Regions from separate parts of the Homo sapiens genome. Here region 1 is reported to be linked to region 2. The links are microRNA targets in miRTarBase. Many come from high-throughput screens and were not tested one by one. Region 2 holds a microRNA gene; the other region holds the end of a gene's coding sequence.

The links. The annotated mature microRNA hsa-miR-185-5p reads UGGAGAGAAAGGCAGUUCCUGA and lies in region 2 at 1,157-1,178, opposite strand. An mRNA with a match to its seed (bases 2 to 7 or 8) in the 3' UTR can be bound and repressed. Matches are read on the target gene's strand: a 7mer-m8 pairs with bases 2 to 8, a 7mer-A1 pairs with bases 2 to 7 and ends in A, and an 8mer does both.
Region 1: miRTarBase lists SLITRK5 as a target of hsa-miR-185-5p. Seed matches in the 3' UTR shown: 7mer-m8 at 828-834.

Annotation. Positions count from the first base shown.
Region 1 is chr13:87,677,950-87,681,073 of GRCh38, forward strand. SLITRK5 (SLIT and NTRK like family member 5) reads left to right here. Exons shown (of 2, transcript NM_001384609.1): 2 at 1-1,667. The coding sequence ends at 316. LOC112268106 (a long non-coding RNA gene) reads left to right here and starts at 1,991. Exons shown (of 3, transcript XR_002957486.2): 1 at 1,991-2,153.
Region 2 is chr22:20,031,207-20,034,330 of GRCh38, reverse strand. MIR185 (microRNA 185) reads right to left here and starts at 1,192; the gene lies at 1,111-1,192. All of the region lies in intron 1 of TANGO2 (transport and golgi organization 2 homolog), which reads right to left. RefSeq lists enhancers at 75-144, 1,828-2,047, 2,482-3,124.

The DNA.
Region 1 (3,124 bases), not on the chromosome of region 2:
TTACAGGGGCATTTTAGAACCAGACAAACACTGCTCCACCACCCCCGCCGGCAATAGCCTCCCGGAATATCCCAAATTCCCGTGCAGCCCCGCTGCTTACACTTTCTCCCCCAACTATGACCTGAGACGCCCCCATCAGTATTTGCACCCGGGGGCAGGGGACAGCAGGCTACGGGAACCGGTGCTCTACAGCCCCCCGAGTGCTGTCTTTGTAGAACCCAACCGGAACGAATATCTGGAGTTAAAAGCAAAACTAAACGTTGAGCCGGACTACCTCGAAGTGCTGGAAAAACAGACCACGTTTAGCCAGTTCTAAAAGCAAAGAAACTCTCTTGGAGCTTTTGCATTTAAAACAAACAAGCAAGCAGACACACACAGTGAACACATTTGATTAATTGTGTTGTTTCAACGTTTAGGGTGAAGTGCCTTGGCACGGGATTTCTCAGCTTCGGTGGAAGATACGAAAAGGGTGTGCAATTTCCTTTAAAATTTACACGTGGGAAACATTTGTGTAAACTGGGCACATCACTTTCTCTTCTTGCGTGTGGGGCAGGTGTGGAGAAGGGCTTTAAGGAGGCCAATTTGCTGCGCGGGTGACCTGTGAAAGGTCACAGTCATTTTTGTAGTGGTTGGAAGTGCTAAGAATGGTGGATGATGGCAGAGCATAGATTCTACTCTTCCTCTTTTGCTTCCTCCCCCTCCCCCGCCCCTGCCCCACCTCTCTTTCTCCCCTTTTAAGCCATGGGTGGGTCTAACTGGCTTTTGTGGAGAAATTAGCACACCCCAACTTTAATAGGAAATTTGTTCTCTTTTTCCGCCCCTCTCCTTCTCTCCTCCCCTCCCCTCCCTTCTCATTCCTTTTCTTTGTTTTTAAAGGATGTGTTTGTATGCATTCTGGACATTTGAATTAAAAAAAAAGTATTGTGATCCTGTAAAGGATCACCATAGATGTGGACAAATCATTAAAATTACAGAGCTATATGATCCATAATTGATTAGTCAAAATAACTTATTGATGAAATATACAAATATTTTATTGTAGCACCTATTTTTATATGCACATTTAGCATTCCTCTTTCCTTCACTATTTAGCCTATGATTTTGCAGAGGTGTCACACTGTATTAGGATCTGCATTTCTAAAACTGACGTGGTATCAGGAAGGCATTTTCAATCATTCAAAATGTGGAGAATTTAATGGCTAAATCTTTAAAAGCCAATGCAACCCACCCAATTGAATCTGCATTTTCTTTTAAGAAAACAGAGCTGATTGTATCCCAATGTATTTTAAAAAATAGGGCAATTGATTGGGCCATTCCGAGAGAATTGTTTGCAAGTTTTGGGTTTTATTAGAAAATATTTGAAAGTATTTTTATTAATGAACCAAAATGACATGTTCATTTGACTACTATTGTAGCCGATTTTCGATTGTTTAACCAAACCCAGTTGCATTTGTACAGATCCACGTGTACTGGCACCTCAGAAGACCAAATCATGGACTGTACAAGTCTCTATACAATGTCTTTATCCCTGTGGGCAGCAAGCAATGATGATAATGACAAACAGGATATCTGTAAGATGGGGCTACTGTTGTTACAGTCTCATATGTATCCCAGCACATGTAATTTTTTAAATAGTTTCTGAATAAACACTTGATAACTATGTCAAATATGAGGGATGGAAGTAATGATTACTTAAGGTGCAAAAGACTTAACTATGTGTGATTGATAGAATCTCCATCATTAACAATTTAGGAAATAGTTCCTAAACTTTATTCCTAATACAAAATGTGTTTCCCCTAATTAGCAAAATTGTAAAGTATATAGTATATATATAGTATATAGTATATATAGTATATAGTATATATATAGTATATAGTATATATATAGTATATATATAGTATATATAGTATATATGTATATATATAGTATATATAGTATATATATAGTATATAGTATATATATAGTATATAGTATATATATACTATATATAGTATATATATATATAACATACATGACATATATAAGTAATTTATTCCTTTGTTGGTTCAGGGAAGTATGATTTTCTAAATGTGTCGCTTAATGTGTTTATTAATGCAGTTTCAATTATATACACTCTTTCCTTACTGAAGTATTCATCTACTACGTGGAGCATGGTAAGTAATATATCGCATATTCACTTTTCTCTTAATACAATGTAATTGTCATATCAGTATTATTTATTCAGTCTACAGTTTTCCATAGTTTTCATATTTTTAATTTGTGTAAAACTACCTTCAACAGTTATGATGGATTCCTTATCTAAAGTTGATCAGTATTCTAAATGCTCAAAATGGTGTATATGAGCTCGTCATCTTTGAATAAGGTTTTCTAGTGAGTTTAGACACAATTTAAGGATAAGAAATGTTTCAATTATGTGCTTCATTGCTATAGGTGGATCTCCCCATAGTTTCACCTGGAATTTGTACAATATCAAGGGCTGTTCATGAACTTTGTGTTTAAAGAACAATTTCCATGGCATTCTGCCACAAAGAGGCAGCATTCACCCATGAGAAAATTGACAGTAACTACTTGAATTCAGGTTGAACAGGTGGTACCAGTTTCCCGGAGGATTAAAAAAAAAACAAATTGTAATGCTACATTGACCAAGTACAGTAAGCTGTTCATATTCTTTGCAACATTTTCCTTTCTAATTTTTTTTTCAAAGGGGAAAGGAATAAGCTTAATAATGTCATGGTATTATCATGAAGAAAAGTGCATTGCTTGCTCTTCATCTACCTCCTCTATATTAGATCCAAGATTAGAAAAGAAAAAAAAAATACTAGCATTTGACTTCAAAATTGAGATTGGTATTATTCTTCACAGCAGCAGGAAGTTATTTTTTTAATGTCAGTATCACTTCCTCAACCTTATTATATATAGATATGACAGTTTTATAAATTATAAAATATAAATGTAAAGTGGAATCCTCCATGTAACTTAGTTTTATTTCTTAATTGGTGCATAAAATAAAAAGATAAGAATTACATAAAATTAATGACTTAGTTCTGGGCAATATAAGTAACTTTCAAAGAAAGTTTAGTGATGTATTTTTCAAAGATTTACAAAATTTTATTGTAAAACCAGC
Region 2 (3,124 bases):
CATCAACCAACCATGCTCTGATGGCAGAAAGAAAACAGACAGCTCAGAAACATCTGCAGGGCAAAGGAAGTGATGAAGAGCAAACTGGGTTTACAAAGCAGCAAAAGGAACTCGGTTTTTTTTTGTTGTTGTTGTTTTGTTTTTGCTCCTGTTGCCCAGGCTGGCTGGCATAATCTCGGCTCACCGCAACCTCCGCCCCCCGAGTTCAAGCAATTCTCCTGCCTCAGCCTCCCGAGTAGCTGGGATTACAGGCATGCGCCACCACGCCCAGCTAATTTTGTATTTTTAGTGGAGACGGGGTTTCTCCATGTTGGTCAGGCTGGTCTCCAACTCCTGACCTCAGGTGATCCACCCACCTCGGCCTCCCAAAGTGTTAGGATTACAGGCATGAGCCACCATGCCTGGCCAAAAGAACTCTTAGGAAGCTATTTTAGAAATGAAAGCTTCAGTGACTGCACATTAAAGCTCAGCTGTGGGTTTAAGAGCAATCAGGTGCAGCTGATGATGCAGAACCATCCCGAATGCAGTGCAGGAAGATGGGGAACACGCTGGGCTTTGGGAGTGCACCCAAGGTGCCACTGATGGGGTGGGCCCAGCACTCACCATGTGGCCAGAAGACACAAGTCCCTTTACTCTGGAGGAGCTGGTCTTTCCTGCACATGAGAACCCCTGGCTGCAGTCACTGGAGAAGCCCTGCCAGCTGGTCTCTACTGGAATCCCACTGGCCTGGAGCCCAGGGCTGCCCAAGGCCTGCTCACCAGGGACATGCTCCTCTGGGGTGTTAGAGAAGGCCGTTGGTCTCAATCAACTTCAGCCGACCTCAGCCCTCCCTGGGCTGCACGCCCAGCTGCTGGCAAGGCCATGGATGAGGGCAGTTCTGGCCACTGATACACGTAGGACAGACAGGCAGAAAGGCACCCCCAGTTCAGCTGCAGGACCCCACCATCCTAGCTGGCCAGGGTGCAGGGGCAGCAGACCAGCCCTCCAGGCACCAGTGGCAGGGAGGGCTCCATGGTCCAAGGGAAGGCCATAAACAGATCTCCGGACAGCCTGGCACTGGAGGTGTGGGCGCAGAGCCAAGGGCTGTGGCCTCGACGAAGACGCGGTCATTGGGAGGGAAGGACCAGAGGAAAGCCAGCCCCTGGGGAGGGGACCATCAGGAACTGCCTTTCTCTCCAATCCCTCGCCCCCTGCTCGAGCCAGGCCCACTGCCCACCGGCCCCCAACCCAGCTCTAGCCAGCAGGTCTCCCCCTCCCCCTGCCAGCTTCACCTCCCCCGACCTGTGACCTTGCCTTTGCCTGGGCCCCTGTGTGCTCCCTAAGCCAAGCCCTGCAGGTTCCCTAGGTCCTACAAGGTCCCCACACAGGCCCACCACAGCATTCCAACACCCTCTCATGCCTGCTGACTTGCCAGGCTCTGGGAGGGAGCCATGGATATAGTCCTTGTCCTTTTGGTCACCATATCTTGATCTGGGCGCAGGGCATGTGGGCACACGGGTGGCCAGGACCACTTCCCACAACTTCCACAGGTCCCATCACACCAGGTGAGGCTGGGCTCCTCAGGGCATCTCTTGTGCCACACAGAGCTCGCCCTCAAGGTTGCCCGAATTGGCCAACTCTACAGGAGGGTTGGTGTCCCAGGGAGAATCGTGCCTGGCTTTCCAGGTGAGGCTCCGCCCTGCCTGTCCCCACCCCTGCCCTGGGCTCAGCACTTGGGCCAAGCCCAACCAACTCTCAGCATGTCCTTGGCAGTCCAAGAAGGCCAGAGTGGTCAAAGCCATGCAGGGTTGGCCCTGAGGCCCAGGCGGCCAGAACCAGACCACAAAGAGCAGCTGGAGGAAGAGGCAGGCAGGAGGGTCTGGGGTCCAGTCAGCAGCCTTGCCCTGGGTCTCAGAGGCCACAGCCCAGAAGCATCTGAACATCTGCAGGAAGCCACGCCCAGTCTCTGCATCCTGCACAGGACCCCGCCTGCCCCAAGGGGCTAAGACCACCAGGGCAGCCTGCACACAACCACCAGGCTTGCAGAAGCAGTCAGATGGCCACACGCCCATCCTCTCCAGGCGGAAAATGCTTACCCCTCTCCATTCTGTCAACTGGCCTCACGGCCACCGGGATAGCAGTTGGGCAAGTAGGTTACAGGGCGGGTGGGGCAGGTGACGCAAAACCTGGCTGCCAGGGCGGGTCCAACCCCAACCGGAAGGAGGCTGGGCCAGGGCACCACAGGTGGGAAGATGCTGATGAGCTCCTCCCTGTGCTGTGTGCTCTGCAGCTGTGATCTCATCTCAAGAGTCCCAGGTCACATGGCAGGGATGGGCAAGGTGAGCCTGGAGGGGCTCATGGTGGGGCACCTGCTGGTTGGGCTAGAGGTGAAGAAGCAGTGAGCTGGCCACCCCGAGCAGGCACACGTGGGATGCTGGGATCAAGTGGGCCTGCTGGACCCTGCACCCACGGCCTGGCAGCCCCTGAGAGAGTCAGGATGGCCTCGGCACTGGATCTGTTCATTTGTAGCTCTGCTCTGCCCAGCCACGCTGTGGACACTCCTGGAAGTCAGCATGCTGCCTTCTGCTCTCTCATAGCAGGATCTGCTGATCCCCGCCAGGGTGCAAGAGGTCCCTGGGCAAGCTGGTGATGGGCAGCCAGCTTCCTCCTGGCCATGGTGGTCACTGTGTTCACATGTGGTCCTACTAGAAACATCATCTTGAAAGCAACTGGCATGACACAGGCACATGGCCAGGCCTCACCAGGCCCACAGGGATGGAAGAGCCCAGATATGTAGCCCAGGCTGACAACAGGAGGCCGTGTGGGCAGCAGTCGAGAGGAGCCATACTTCAAGACTGAAAGCAGAGCCTGTGAGGTGGGCAAATGTCCTGCCACCGACCTACGACACCAGCACAGCGCAGCAGGGCAACGTGGCATGGTGGTGAGGTTCCTGAGCCAGGACAAGAAAAGAAGCGTTGTTCTCATGGCTATTTGAGGAAGCACATCACCTCCACTCTGTCGCCCAGGTGCAGTCGTGTGATCATAGCTCACTGCAGCCTCGAACTCCTGGGCTCAAGCCATCCTCCCACCTCAGCCTCCCAAGTAGCTAAGATTACAGCTGCATACCACCACACCCGGCTAATTT